Linked DNA regions of Homo sapiens: region 2 is linked to region 1. A link means that fine-mapping ties the variant in region 1 to the expression of a gene that starts in the linked region. Tissue or cell type: fibroblasts. Region 1 holds a variant in brackets; the other region holds the start of a gene. All regions are shown on one strand. Distances are from middle to middle.

The links. PIP is the estimated chance that this variant, and not a neighbour inherited with it, causes the effect.
Region 2: INTS4 starts here. The variant in region 1 is fine-mapped to the expression of INTS4 in fibroblasts (GTEx, PIP 0.92).

Annotation. Positions count from the first base shown.
Region 1 is chr11:77,903,919-77,912,026 of GRCh38, forward strand. It overlaps INTS4 (integrator complex subunit 4), which reads right to left. Exons shown (of 23, transcript NM_033547.4): 16 at 3,799-3,892. It also overlaps a transcript of AAMDC not described here. Among named protein-coding and RNA genes, the nearest start is that of INTS4, 87 kb to the right of the region's middle. The variant G/A (reference allele first, on the strand shown) is at 3,477.
Region 2 is chr11:77,991,079-77,999,186 of GRCh38, forward strand. It overlaps INTS4 (integrator complex subunit 4), which reads right to left and starts at 3,590. Exons shown (of 23, transcript NM_033547.4): 1 at 3,512-3,590; 2 at 30-221. The coding sequence starts at 3,565. RefSeq lists an enhancer at 3,505-3,704 and silencers at 3,905-3,974, 6,732-6,932.

The DNA of each region.
Region 1 (8,108 bases):
AGCCAGCTTCCGGGCTCTAGGCACTCCTTGTTCCCAGAGCTACTGGACTAACCCAAGCCACCTAGATACTTCTTCCTTAACTGTGGTTCTTTTTTCTTTTCCCCTATGCTCATTATGTTGTAAGCCCCAACCACTTTATCAACATATTCAACTAGAAATCAAGCAGCTTTCCTAGATTTCTCCCTCTTTCAATCTTTCTACATTCAAAACCACCACTAAGAGCCATGATTTTACCTTCCATCTCTCTCCTCACCTATCCATCCACATGACCTCATCCCTTGCACAAACTTCTGTGACAGCCTCTTATTTTCTCAGTCCTTCTGAATTACAGATGTAATCAAATGACATTACAGAAAACCTAGACTAACACTGTCCAATAGAAATATAACATGAGCTATATATAATTTTAAATATTCTCGTAGCCACGGTTTTTAAATTACAAAGATGTAAGTTAATTTTAAGATACAAAGACTAAGTTAATTTTTTAAAAAAGTTTATTTAACCCAGTATATCCAAGATATTAACATTTCACCATGCAGTATTTTTTAAATTATTAATTAGTTTACATTTTCTCTTCATACTAAGTCTGAGAAATCCAGTGTGTATTTTGCACTTAATAACACATCTCAGTTTGGACTAACAACTTTTTGAGTGCTCAAGAGTCCCATGTATCTGGTGGCTATCAAATTAAACAGTGGTAGGTCTAAACTGTAGATAAAAACTATAGGAATTTCTGGAATATTTACTTCTAATCATTTCTTGTATGCATGTTTTTTGACAGTTGTAGTCAGAAAGCAGAATTAAGTTTGGGGATTAGATCATAATCCCAAAACATACAATCCCAAATGTTGAAATCCTCACATCCAAATTCTGGGGAAGTGATTAGCGTGTTTTGGGTTGTATGCAGGATAGTTGCATCATGTTAGTTGTATCATGTTAGGCACAACTATTACCATGTTATTGTCTTTATTTGGAAATTAAATATGGCTTAAGGAGATGCGTATGAGTGCCAAGCTGACAAGGGGTGGACTTGTGGACCTAATTTTAGATATCAGCTTGACTAGATTAAGGAATATCAGAAACCTGGTAAAAGATTATTTTGTTTTACACATTGAGGGTGTGTCTATGAGAGTGTTTCCAGAAGAGATTAGTGTATAAATCTGAGTGTACTAAGTGGAGACTATCTGCCCTCAATGTTGGCGGGCACCATCCAATCAGCCAGTGGCCAGGAGAGAACAAATACTTAAGACGAAATGGGCTGGGAGTGGTGGCTCATGCCTGTAATCCTAGCACTTTGGAAGGCCGAGGTGGGTGGATGACCTGAGGTCAGGAGATGGAGACCAGCCTGACCAACATGGCAAAACCCTGTCTCTACTAAAAATACAAAAATTAGCCAGGCGTGGTGGTGCACACCTGTAATCCCAGCTACTTGGGAGACTGAGACAGGAGAATTGCTTGAACCCAAGAGGCAGAGGTTGCAGCAGTGAGCCGAGATCACGCCACTGTATTCAGCCTGGATGATAAGCTGAGACTCTGTCTCAAAAAAAAAAAAAAGGCAATATAGCAAAACGGACTCTCTGGGTTCTGCTGCTTGGATATCAGAAATCTGACTCCATGAAAGTGCATCATCACAATACTGACTTTGTGTATAAGCATTGAGTGTGTACACAAAATGTTGAAACTTCCTCGATAAATGAGATATCCTTTTCGTACATCTGCATTTGTGAAAGATAAAATTTCTTGAGATCTCAGCTCTTTGGGTGACTGCATATGCAGTGGTGACCCAGCACAGTTTCCATCAATCTCGTCAAAAGACTTGAGGTTGTTGGGCACAGTATTTCAGATGACCACAGTTAAAAAGCTGGGTATACACAATTAACAACCAAAGTGATATGCATTTATACCTTTCCCTTTATGACCAATTTCTTTATAAATATGGCTCATCTGCTCATAACTGTTAGACCCACCCAACTGTCATTAGTAACCTGAGTGTTTATGCTTGCAAAAATGTATGTTGTTATTGTCTGTTTTATTATATTAAGTGATGTATAAAGTATTCTGTTGTGTTTTTATGTTTCTCAAATAAATTCCCCTTTAAAAAATAAATATCTTTAAATTTTTTAAATTATTTCTTCCATAATTATATTTTGGGGATTTTGATATTTTCTGGGCTGTGGTTTTTGGGATTTTAGACCTTAGGGATTTTAGTCTTTTGGAATTTAAACAGTTTAGGACTATGATGTTCTGGACTATCTTTTGGGATTATGATTGGCTCCCCTTCTTTTGGGTACATAACATTACACCCTAAATATTTTGTCATGTTGTTGTATAATTCTTCATAAAGAATTACTGACTACAGAATATACTGCTAGGTAGCTGTACCAAAATTTATTTAGCTTTTTTCCTGTTATTAAACACACTTGCCTTGGGTTCTGGCTCTGGGCCCCTCACCTACACTGTCACCCCTTGTCATTGAATAACCAACAATTATGTGTTCTTTTTAGGAGTAATCACTTCTCTTTCCTCACCCATATTTTGCTACTATAGAAAAGTGGATTCTTCTCCATGGCCTCCTTGAATTCCTGGGGTTTCACAGAGGCTTGGAAAAGCCAAACAACCTTGCAAAGGGGCAGGAAGGAACTTCTTGGAGTGATGAAAATGTTCTACGACTTGCCTATGGTGGTGATTACACAGATATATACATTAGAAAGAACATATCTAGCCTAACAAGGACCATTTAAGTGCCAAGTATACATACGCACCTTTACATGTATAGGCACACCTGCACAACTGTAAATATAACATTTAGCACAAGTTCACACAGTAGAAAATAACTTTTGACTCCCTGATTTACTCTGACTTTAGCCAAACATCATTAATCACTTTGAAAACAAAGAACACTTTGAACTAGGGCCAAGATAAAAGTTCGTCAAGTGAGAAGGGCTCTCCTAAATTCTGTGCCAAAATTTATAGTAAAATTCTGCTACAGAAGCTGAAAGATACTGAACTCATTTAATTGTTTTTTAACTCAGCAAAACTAAATAGATTCTTGGGTACCAATTCTGTGTATAGCTGACTACTGAGTAAGAAACGCCAGCAAGCTGGTCTTTTTAAAAGCAATGAAATCAACCTTTTAACTTTGATGAAGTGCAGTGAGTTTTTTTGTTTGTTTGTTTGTTTGTTTTCTTTAAAGACAGGATCTTGGTCTGTCATCCAGGCTGGAGTGCAATCTCACTGCAGCCTTGACCTCCTAGGCTCAAGCAGTCCTCCCAACTCCAGCCGAGTAGCTGGATATACAGGAATGCACCACCACACCTGCCTACTTTAAATTTTCTTGTAGAGATGAGGTGTCGCTATGTTGCCCAGGCTGGTCTCAAACTCTTGAGCTCAAGCGATCCTCCTGCCTTGGCCTGCCAAAGTGCTAAGATTACAGGTGTGAGCCACCGCACCTGGCCTTCAAATGAGCATTTTAAGAA[G/A]ATAGTCTAAAACTTCATACAATTCCTTTGCTAATCAAATTATACAAAACATTTACAACCTTGGGATTCTAACTAAAATGATTATCCAATCTGCTCTAATTATATTATGATAAAAGAATTCTCCCCAAATTTACAAATTCCTATGAGTTAATATTTCGTTAATTAGAGACAAATGTAATCACACTGCAGAGTACATATTTCTCCATTGTCAAGTGGTTGCATTAAGACCATAAGTTTTATAACTTATGGCCTCACACACTGCTGGATCCACAAAGATGCATTTTTAGCAACACAATCATAAATGGAATGGATGCAAACCAACCTTGATGAGAAGTAGTTGACAGCGAAGATAGGTGGCAGAGAAATCAGCTACTCCTGCCAATTCAGATTGAAGTTCTCCAAGTCTTTGCAGATCCCTATAGTAAATAAAACCCCCAAGGCAAACACAGGATAAGGATAATGCCACCAACATAAAGATCATGTCAAAAGCATTTTATCATTTTATACCTAGTAAACAGTCATACATTTTTAAATGACGACACTGAATGCTGGAGTGGTTATAATAAAATTGGTTCACTCACACTGTGATAGTAGTTTAAGCTGATGTAACCCTTTTGGAAAGCAAAACCGTACTGTTATAAAGGCACATATATGGTAAAATGTTTGATTCATAGCTTTACACTGAAAAGTATACTAAGAGAAATATTCAACAGAAATGAAATGCTTTATGGGTCATAATATTCATTGTTATGTGGACTATTATAGTAAAAACTCAGTAGCTACTTATTCAATGGTGAAAAAAATATTGAGTAAATTATGATGCATCCAATCAAGTAAATTTTTTTTTATTATACTTTAAGTTCTGGGGTACATGTGCAGAACGTGCAGGTTTGTTACATAGGTATACACGCGTCATGATGGTTTGCTGCATCCATCTTTTTTTTTTTTTTTTGAGGTGGAGTCTCGCTCTGTTGCCCAGACTGGAGTACAGTGGCGTGATCTCGACTCACTGCAACCTCTGTCTCCTGGGTTCAAGCGATTCTCCTGCCTTAGCCTCCTGACTAGCTGGGATTGCAGACGCACACCAGCACACCCAGCTAATTTTTGTATTTTTAGTAGAGACAGGGTTTCACCATGTTGGCCAGGCTGGTCTCAAGCTCCTGACCTCGTGATCTGCCTGCCTCGGCCTCTCATAGTGCTGGGATTACAGGCGTGAGCCACCGCCCCCGGCCCAAGTAAATATTTTGTAGCCATTAAAATATGGAATGGTTAATAAGGTGTATGATCTCAACTATGTAAAAACTATATAGAGGAGAAAAATACATTGAGGTGGTTTTCTGGATAATGGTAATAGGGTGCTCTTTAGTACCTTCTCCCAACTATGCTTTATTTTCCGAGTTTTTAAGACAATGAACAAGTATTTTTTTGTATCAGAAAAAAACATTATTTTTTAAAAGGTATTATGGTAGACACTGTTGGTTGCCTGTCCAGTTAGCCATTCTCCACTTCTTTATTACTAATTGAACTCTGATTTTGTTCAAGGGAACATGTCCCCAAGCCCAATTCCAAGTAGTATCTGATTGAACTAAGCCAATTAGTGCACATTGTCTGTCTGGATATGTGACCTGAGTTGACCTTATCAGTTCAGTTGAAAGTACTTTATTCCATGCTTACAACAAATTGGTGTGTCTGTCTGTCTCTCGCCGGACTGGGCAAGGATGTTTATAGCCCTGATTGCCATTAGCAGCATACTGTAACTCTAAGGGAAAAACCCTTAAGATAAAGCCAATGCTGAAGACAAGAAAAGTCCAAAGAGAAATAGAGAAACTAGGTCCTCAATGATATAAATAAGCCACTTAATCATACCATATCTCCAATTTCTGGACATCTGGAAAAATATCTTAGTCATGCAACTGCTATAACAAAATATCATAGACTGGGTGGGTTATAAACAACCGAAATTTATTTCTCACAGTTGTATAGGCTGGGAAGTCCAAAATCAAGACACCTACAGATTTGGTTTCTAGTGAGGGCTCATTTCCTCATAGGTTGCACCTTCTACATGTATCTTCATATGGTGGAAGTCACAAACGAGCTCCCTTAGGCCTCTTTTAAAGGTTATTAATCTCATTCATGACCTAATCACCTCCCAAAGACCTCACTTCCTCATAACATCACCTTGGGGTTAGGATTGCAGTATATGAATTTGGGGGAGACATAAACTTTCAGATCATAGCAGGAAATAAATAGCCATTATAAGCTAGCTTGTGAAAAGCATCCTAACTGGATATAAGTATAGACACAATGACTGTAACCATATGAAAACATATCTGCCTATAGTAAGAAATTAGAAAGTGTCATACACAAATAAAATAGTTGTGCTAGAATTATTGGTGATTTAAAACATTTAGTTTTCATATTTATGCAGCCAAAAGACACATGAAAAAATGCTCATCATCACTGGCCATCAGAGAAATGCAAATCAAAACCACAGTGAGATACCATCTCACACCAGTTAGAATGGCTATCATTAAAAAGTCAGGAATCAACACGTGCTGGAGAGGATGTGGAGAAATAGGAACACTTTTACACTGTTGGTGGGACTGTAAACTAGTTCAACCATTGTGGAAGTCAGTGTGGCAATTCCTCAGGGATCTAGAACTAGAAATATCATTTGACCCAGCCATCCCATTACTGGGTATATACCCAAAGGATTATAAATCATGCTGCTATAAAGACACATGCACGCATATGTTTATTGTGGCACTATTCACAATAGCAAAGACTTGGAACCAAGCCAAATGTCCAACAATGATAGACTGGATTAAGAAAATGTGGCATATATACACCATGGAATACTATGCAGCCATAAAAAATGATGAGTTCATGTCCTTTGTAGGGACATGGATGAAGCTGGAAACCATCGTTCTCAGCAAACTATCACAAGGACAAAAAACCAAACACTGCCTGTTCTCACTCATAGGTGGGAATTGAACAATGAGAACACATGGACACAGGAAGGGGAACATCACACCCCGGGGCCTGTTGTGGGGTGGGGGAGGGGGGAGGGATAGCATTAGGAGATATACCTAATGCTAAATGGTGAGTTAATGGGTGCAGCACACCAACATGGCACATGTATACATATGTAACTAACCTGCACATTGTGCACATGTACCCTAAAACTTAAAGTATAATAAAAAGAGAAAATGTTTCTTTAAAAAAAAAATTTAGTTTTTTTGAATAGTTAATACATACTTAAGGTATAGCTTTCAAAGGATATACAATTAAATTAAATTAAATTAGTCCCCCTTCCTACGCCTGTGCCCTGTAGCCCTGCCACCCTGTATACCTTCCCAGAGGCAACTACTATTACCAGTTTCTTTTGAATTTTGAGATATGCCATGCATTTACAAAAAGTACTGGTTTTCTTTGCTTTCTTCTTTTTTAGGGGAGGAATGTGAGTGTGTGTGTGTTTGTGTATTACCTAACCATCTCAGCATTCATAGAAAGCTGCCTCATTACTTTTTAATAGCAACATTAAATTCTGAATAGAAATGGAAACTGTGGGAAACCTTAAGGTCTGAGTCACTTGGGAAGCTGTCTGTTTCAGGGCCGGCATAACACATCAGGTTTCACAGTAGCCTGGAAAAAACCGTCCACTGGACTATGACACTTCCTCCCATCTCATGCTCGGCAGGTAACGTTACGATAGTTAACGATGCCTCCTGGGGACTTTGACATCAAGAAGGAGATGCCTACAAAGGGGCAAAGAGTAAATTACTCTCAAAGTGATTGAAGAATTAATGTATGATATATATCACTTCTTATTCGTTTGGGTTGCTTGAACTGGTCCTGGAGGGCCTACCCAAAGTGTGGGAACCCAGCACAATGAAAGCCAAGACCATAGACTAGCTAAGCCCAACTGTGAAGTGTGAGTTTGGTGGCCAGATGGTCTCTTCCTTTCGCTTCTCTGATTTTTCTCTTGCAAGAGACAGCCCTGAAGTATTCTACTTCAGAAGCATTTGTGTTTCCTCTCCAGGAAGATTCTGCCTTCTATGACAATTATACAGAATACAGACCAACTGACTGTACATTAACTAACTGATTCCAAATGTTACTTTATTCCCCTGCCCCGGAATTGTAGCAGTTGTTCTGAAGTGCACAAAACAAGATGTAACCCAATCCAACACAATTAGCCATAAGAAATCTGAACTTCTGTACAAACAAAAATGGAAACTTGTTAGCTCTGGGAAAAATCCTGTGTCCCAGTGTTACCTCTCTTTATCTCTTTATGCTCACAATTCTCAGGAAGCCTCAGTCTAGACATCCATCAGGAGACTATGGGCTCTAATGAGAAAGGTAAACTGAGCACATTCTATGTGCACTGTACTGTGCTGGCTGTTTCCTTACTTGAGCTCACTTAATCCTCACAATATGAATTGCAATTAATCCTATTTCACTGAACAGGAAACTAAAGATCAAAATTTAAGTGGCTTGCCTAAGGTCACAGAATAAACAACAAAACAGGACATGAACTAGACAGAGTCAGCTCTGACTCCAAAAGTATTTTTTTAACCATATCATATTGCATCTCATTTATTTATTTGCTATTAAACTCTTTTCATTTAT
Region 2 (8,108 bases), 87 kb after region 1:
CTCCCATCAGATCCTCAAGATTTTCTTACCTTGTAATAATGTTCCAAGAGAATCCTGACTACTCCCTCTACGCTTTCCGCCTCGACAGGCTTCCTGGCAAACTGGAGCAAGTATTGCAAAGCATCTGCTGGGGAGGTAGCTTTACACAGATCTATGTGGAGTGCTGCAGATTTACTTGGTTTTGTTAGTCGGAGTTTCTTAGTAGCAATTTCCTCCTGTGGCTGCAAGGGGTAGAGAAAATCGAAAACACAGAATCTGCAAATTTAACTTTGCCTCATTTGGTGGAAATGATTTTCCATTATACCAAATAATATATTTAGCTGATGGACTTAGGAAAATACAGTATTATAAACCAGAAAGAGTACCGGGTTGGTGACAAGGCCATGAGTCTCAATTTTGCCTTTACCAGTTCCTATGACTTTAGGCAAGTCATTTAATTTCTCCGAGTCTCAGTTTATGTCTCTGTAAAATAGGTATACTTTTTTTTTTTCTTAGAGATGGAGTCTCTCTATGTTGCCCAGGCTGGTCTTAACTCCTGGGCTCAAGCAATCCTGGCACCTCAGCCTCCCAAAGTGCTGGGATTACAAGCATGAGCCACGGTGCCCAGCCTTACACTAACATTTTGCTCTACCTATCTCTGAGGATTGTGGTAGCCTTTGGGTTTAGAGGTCACACAAAGGATCTACTCCATTTTTTTGAGACAGAGCAAGACACTGTCGCCCAGGCAGGAGTGCAATGGTGCAATCTTGGCTTGCTGCAATCTCCACCTCCTAGGTTCAAATGATTCTCTGACTGACACCCAACATGCTGGGATTATAGGTGTGTGCCACCTCCACCTACTACGTTCAAGCGATTCACCTCCCTGACTCCCAACTAGCTGGAATTACAGGTGTGTGCCACCACACATGGCTAATTTTTGTATTTCTAGTAGAGACAGGTTTTGCCATGTTACCCAGGCTGGTTTCGAACTTCTGGCCTCAAGTGATCCCTCTGCTTCAGTCTCCCAAAGTCCATTCTTTATTAGAAAACAAATATCAGACATGGCATGGTGGCTCATGCCTGTAATCCCAGCACTTTGAGAGGCTTAGGCAGGCGGATCACTTGAGGCCAGGAGTTCAAGACCAGCCTGGCCAACATGGCAAAACCCCATCTCTACTAAAAACACAAAAATTAGCTGGGGGTGGTGGTGTATGCCTGCAGTCCCAGCTATGCAGGAGGCTGAGGATTGCGTGAACCCAGGAGGCAGAAGTTGCAGTGAGCTAGGATTGCGCAACTGCACACCAGTTTGGGCGAAAAGAGCGAAACTCCATCTCAAAACAGAAGAAAAGGAAACAAATATCCGATGGGCGTAGTGGCTTACACCTGAAATCCTAGCACTTTGGGAGGCTGAGGCAGGAGGATCCCTTGAGCCCAGGAGTTCGAGACCAGCCTGGGCAACATGGTGAAATCCTGTCTCTGTTAAAAAATAATAATAAAATAAAATAAATTTCCTTACCACCTAATGGTGCGTTTTTATGTACTGAGCAATCACCTCCTTACAAATTCACATTTCTATAGAAAAGAGAGTAGAATTATTCTAGACAAGAACACAGTATGACATGATAAAAAGAATAAGGACTTTGGAGTCAGAGGAATTTGTATTCAATTACAACTTACTAGCTGGGGAAGGCCTTCTTCTATAGGAGGGCATACCAATACTTTATTATCACAGAGCTAGTCGATAAATCTGTTATTAAACATAACTTTATTATACGTATATGTAAGTGCTAGGCACATATCAGTTCTCCCTCCTCATCTTTTCAGCGGAGAAAAAAGAACAGAAGCACTAAGATCTCATTTAATCACTTTATGTTAACAACTGATGAAAAATTAAGTGAAGAAATTAGCTCTTCCCTTAAAATTCTTAGCCATTTCTATCCTAGTCCTCTCAAACTCAGTTTTCAGTCTTATCGAAGCTGTAGTTAGGTCAAAAGCTAGGAATTTTTTCCCTAAGTATTATATAAGGGAGAGGACAAGCAATATCAACTGTCATTCAACCACCAATAACACTTTAGTGAGCCAGGCCCTATTGTCCATCTCCAGGACACGGAGATGAGCCAGGCATTAGCTCTGCCATCAAGGACCTCCGACTGGTGGGAAGATAGGTACACCGGTAATGACAGCAGCACTGAACAAAAAGTACAAATAGATTAGTACCACAGAATGCTACAGAAACAGGTGAAGAAGAGACTAAGCTCTCGCTGAGGTTTCATTTGGGTCTTGAAGCACAAATGTTAAGTCCACTGGGTGGAGAACAAAAAGAAAGGGAAGAATGGCATGTATTCTGTGAGAAGAGACAACCAGTGCAAGAGTTTTGAGATATGCAAACACAAGAACACATGGCATATCTGGTCATGTGAGGATGGGTGGAAGAGGGCTGAGCAGTCTTGGGAAATGGGAACAACAGAATGTTGGGAAGAGAGGAAATCACATTGTGCAACAGTGCTAATGTTCTTAATGCCACTGAACTTTATACTTAAAATTGTTAAAATTGTAAATTTTATATTATGTATTGACATATTTTGTATTTGTATTAACATATTTTAATGCTGGATGAATGAATCCATGTAATGTTTAAGGATCAGTATCCTGCTGGATGCTCTAAGCCTTGCCACTCTACAAGTCTAAGGATCTAAGAATGCAACCAATGCACTGGTGTAAATTTGGGGGCATGTCAGGAATGCAGAATCTTGCCTCACCTCCTCTGCTTGACTTATCAAATAGAATCGACATTTGAACAACGTCCCCAGGTAATTTGTATACACATTAATATCTGAGAAATAGGACATCAGGATGATTTAGGATCAACCCTAGCAACATCTACGTGGAGACACATGGAGCATCACTGACTCCCGACAGGGACTCTGCCCACCTGTCACAACTTCATGGTGAGGAAGGTACTGCCCTCCTTCCTAGGTGAGCTGTTCTACCAATAGAGAGCTCTTCCCCTATGAAGTCTGTGACCCCCGCCTGCTTAGACTGCGCCTGAAGGAATTCTATAGACCCTTCTTTCAGCCCCTTAGAACCTTGTGTATATTCCAACTGGTCCCTGGGAGGTTTTTTTTTGGAACGGGGGTGCGGGGAGGCTAGAAGGGGCTCTGCTGCTAACTGGCTGTATCCTCGTACCCCTCCGGAAGGCTCAATGTCCACATCTGGAAAACGAGGATGCTAATGTAACGCGATGGAGCAAAGTTGTGTGAGAGAATAAAATGAAATAACGGATAAGACAGTTTCGTAAATTAAAAAACACTGTTTCTCCTAATAATTTTTTTAAAATCCTGTCAGACTTCACATATTAATGACAACAGCGGCTGCAAACTAACACGCCCACTAACTTGCAATATCAGAGATTATCAACAAGTCAGCACTTAACACGGGCGTATGGAGCCTCTTCTGTTCCGGCAAAGTGCCTGGGATTTGGATAATCTACCCTGGTCCGGATCGGTTCTGGATCTTTCCCGCCAGAGCTTACCTGAACCACTTTCGTGAATTCCTCATAAACCCGCTTCTTAAGGTGCGCCGCCATGCCTACCCGCGGGCCCTCTCAGCTTCCGTACACTAGGAGGGAGGCGGGGGTGGACGGATCCGGAAAACTTGCGTAGGCGCGGGGGGTGGGTGGATGACTTGCCGAGATCCCACAAGGCAGTGGGATTTGGGGAAAGAGCGACCGCTTCCTGTTGCTCGACTGCCTCGCCACTGTACGGACTGATTTGGCGGCCTACGCCGGAAGAACGGAAATAAGAGCTTCGCTTGTGGGAGGCGGGGCCTCTGGCGGGAGGAGCTGAGACTGAAAGGGTGGGCAACCCAATGGGAGCTTTGGGAGGCTGGTTGGTGGCCTCGGAGTGGCTAAGAGACTAGCGCGGCGCGGCGCGAAGGGAGGGAGGGAGGAAGTACAGGTTAAAGGGCAGAGGCGGGGTGCTCCAGAGCTAGAGGCAAAACCCGGAGCTCTGTAAGGGGTTTACGACTCGTGAAAAAACTCAGAGGCTCGGCTGACTTTCCCATCATCCTTTGCTGTACACGATGCTGTTTGTAGGTTTCCTGAGCACTGCCTTTGTTCAAGCTGTGCGCCACCTCTCTTGTTTTGGGGTGCCTTTCCATACTTCCTTATTCCAGTTTTGCAAAAGCTGCCATCCTTTAAGGCATCAATCCCTGCTCTGATAGCTATAGTACAGTAGAAGACTTCTGAGACCAAGGATAAAGCAACAAAGCTACAGACTACAGCTCTGGTTCTTGAGCAAATGGCTCAACTACAAATGCATTTATAATAACTAACCTGACAAAGATGTGACAATGGAGTGAAATAATGCAGGAACATTTTACGGACTGTAAGGTGTAGTGCACATGTTAGTGTCAGTAAATCCAAGGTCAAGTTTTACAACCTACATGAAACTAGCTGTTCATTATTTTGGTCTTTCAAAAGAATGTGGGCCAGGCGCGGTGGCTCATGCCTGTAATCCCAATACTTTGGCAGGCCGAGGCGGATGGATCACTTGAGGTCAGGAGTTCGAGACCAGCCTGGCCAACATGGGGAAACCCCGTCTCTACTAAAAATACAAAAATTAGTCGGGGCATGGTGGCACACGCCTGTAATCCCAGTTTCTTGGGAGGTTGAGGCAGAAGAATCACTTGAACATGGGAAGCGGAGGTTGCAGTGAGCCGAGATCGCGCCACTGCACTCCAGCCTGGGCGACTGAGCGAGACTCCGTTATCAAAAAAAAAAAAAAAGAATTAATGTGGGATAGTTTAAAAAAAAAAAAGCAGGAGGCTGAGGTGGATACAGAGGACCCAAAAATAAACAAAAGATAGTATTTATCCTCAAGGTCCTACAATCTGAGAAGACAGACACCCAAACTGATGGTGACAGTGCAACTGAAATGTGCTGGGTAACGGGAATGAATGTGGTTCAAACAGACCTAATTTCTTCAGAGTGCCTCAGGGAAGGCTTTCCTAAAATTAGAGGAAACTGGGAGTGGTGGCTCACGCCTATAATCCCAGCACTTTGAGAGGCCGAGGCGGGCAGATCACCTAGTTCAGAAGTTTTGAGACCAGCCTGGGCAACATGGCGAAATCTACTTTAAAAATACAAAATTTAGCTGGGCATGATGGTGGCCCACGCCTGAAGTCCCAGCTACTCTGGAGGCTGAGGCGGGAAAATCGCTTGGGCCTGGGATGTGGAGGTTGCAGTGAGCCGAGATCCAGCCACTGCACTCCAGCCTGGGCAACGGAGTGAGACCCTGTCTCCAAAAAAAAAAAAAAAAAAAAAAAAGGCTGGGCGCGGTGGCTCACCCCTATAATCCCAACACTTTGGGAGGCCGAGGCAGGCGGATCACCTGAGGTCGGGAGTTCGAGACCAGCCTGGCCAACATGGTGAAACCCCGTCTCTCCTAAAAATACAAAAACTAGCCGGGCGTCGGGGTGGGTGACTGTAATCCTAGCTACACGGGAGGCTGAAGCAGGAGAATCGTTTGAACCCAGGTGGCAGCGGCTGCAGTGCGCCGAGATCGGGCCTCTGTACTCCAGCCTGAGCAACAGAGCGAGACTCTGTCTCAAGAAAAAAAAAAGAAAAAAAAAGGAAACTATTTCTAATGCAGCTTTAAAAGAATGAGTTTTTCCAGAAACAAAGGCATCCCAGACCGCCGAGATAAGATATACAAATATGTCAAGGGAAATGAAAAACATTTAGCAAACAGTACCTTTAATAAAGCTTAGCTGCTATTATTACCATTATCATATTCTATCAAATCTAAGCTGCCAGCAATTGTAAAATCAATATTTTATTTATTATGTTAAGAAAAGAAATGCTGAAATTAAATACAATGGTTTCTAATTGCTTAGATTTGTTATGTATACTTACAGAAACAGCTCTTTTTAACTTATTTAGACATAGATTTGTATCTTACCTCGCACTGCTGTTTCCATGTCTTCCTGTGCACATAAGAACTTTTTAATGCCAAATTATAGGGTAATCTATTTGGAGATATATTTAATAGTAATTTAAAATAACACATGTAATTCCAAAATTGCACAGAGCTCAGTCGAAGCGATGACACCATGAACTGCTACGACTCAGTATACATATGAGCGATTGGCCAACATCTCCTGATTTCGGAGACATTAAATGTGCATCATAGCATCAATGATACAGAGTATTATCATCGTTATTAAATACATGGCGGCCAGGTGCGGTGGCTCACACCTGTAATCCCAGCACTTTGGAAGACCAAGGTGAGAGGATAGCTTGAGCTCAGGAGTTGGAGACCAGCCTGGGCAACATGGTGAAAACCTATCTCTACCAAAAATACAAAAAATTAGCTGGGCGTGGTGGCATATGCCTGTAGTGCCAGCTACTCGGGAGGCTGAGGTAGGAAGATTGCTTGAGCCCGCTTGGCAGAGATTGCAGTAGCTGAGATCGCACCACTGCACTCCAGCCTGGGTGACAGAATGAGACCCTGTCTCAAAATAATAAATAAATAAATAAATAAATAAATAAATGGCTTTAGGAAGGAGTTTGGTGCATTCCGAAAACCAAAGGAACTTCAGTTCATGTTGAAAGTTAAGTGCATGCAGGGAACAGAAGAAGCAATAAAAATAAAGTTGAGGCCAGGCATGGTGCCTCATGCCTGTAATCCCAGTACTTTGGGAGGTGGTAGGTGGGAGGATCCCTTGAGCTCAGGAGTTCCAGACCAGTCAGTGCAACAGAAAGAGACCCTGTCTCTATATTTTAAAAAAAAAAAATTTATATGGAGTTTATCTCTGTCACCCAGGCTGCAGTGCAGTGGCACAATCGTGGCTCCCTGTAGCCTCGATCTCTGAGGTTCAAGCGATTCTCCTGCCTCAGCCTCATGAGTAGCTGAGATTACAGGCATGCGCCACCACACCCAGCTAATCTTTTTGCATTTTTAGTAGAGACAGGGTCTCACCATGTTGCCGAGGCTGGTCTCAAACTCCTGACCTCAAGTGATCTGCCCACCTCGGCCTCCCAAAGTGCTGGGATTACAGGCATGAGCCACCACGCCTGGCTATATAAATTTTTTTTAAATTATAAATAAATAAATTTGAGAAGTTGGTATAGCCAACTTCTCAATGAGCCAGATTGGTATAGAAACAAGAACACACATTCTTTAATGTTGAATTGAAAAACCGTCTTTATTGTATTGATGCCATTTTCCTTTGACTTTTATTATTACTTATGAAAATACATTAAGGTTCACCTGTGAATGAATCCGTGAGGCTTCAGTCTTCTCTCTCTCTTGCATAACAGCAGCCCAACTTAGTAACTTCTTCTCTACCTGCTGGTTCAGAACAAGAGCCCCAGTGGTCTGGGGACAGTCTCATTACATGTCCAATGTAATGAACAATGACTATGTTCTCTAGGGCAACTGTTCCTCCCTTGGGGAGTAAGTCTTCCAAACCTACTGAGCCCAAGAATTCATAAATGAATTATTAGGTGTAAAAGAGAGAGGAACTGCTCCTATCTCCACCCTTTGATAACCAGACCCATGTTCTAACTGTGGGAGAAGCAGTACTATATTTTAGCTGTTGGTATAAGGCATATGCCACAAACAGCGGCCCAAACTCACAATGTGTTGGCTCTTGACTAGCGCTATAACTGAATCTCCAAAAGGTTATTATTCTGCTTTATTATAGCACCTACATCTGAATGATGGGGTTCCTGGCAAGACCAAGAAGTTTCTTCACTACAATTTTCTCAGCATAAAATAAGCTCCTTAATCAGAAGCAATGTGTGGAGTACTATGATAATGAATGAGGCATCCATAGATGATGGAGCTGGCAGAAATATTGCAGGCAGGGAAGTCAAATCTGAATTTGGAATATGAATCTATTCCTGTGAGGACAAATCACTGCTCCTTCCATGATGGAAAGGATCCAGTGTGTAGTTGAATGATTGCAAAAAAAGCCCCAAATCTCCCCCTCTCGGTATGTATACCCCTTGAAGTGTGACTTTGAAGGTGCTTTTATTAAGAGATGAAATCTATATTATCACCCTTTGAATTTGTGCTGGCCTTGTGACAGGCCAATACAATGTGGTAGAAGTGACAGCGTGCTAA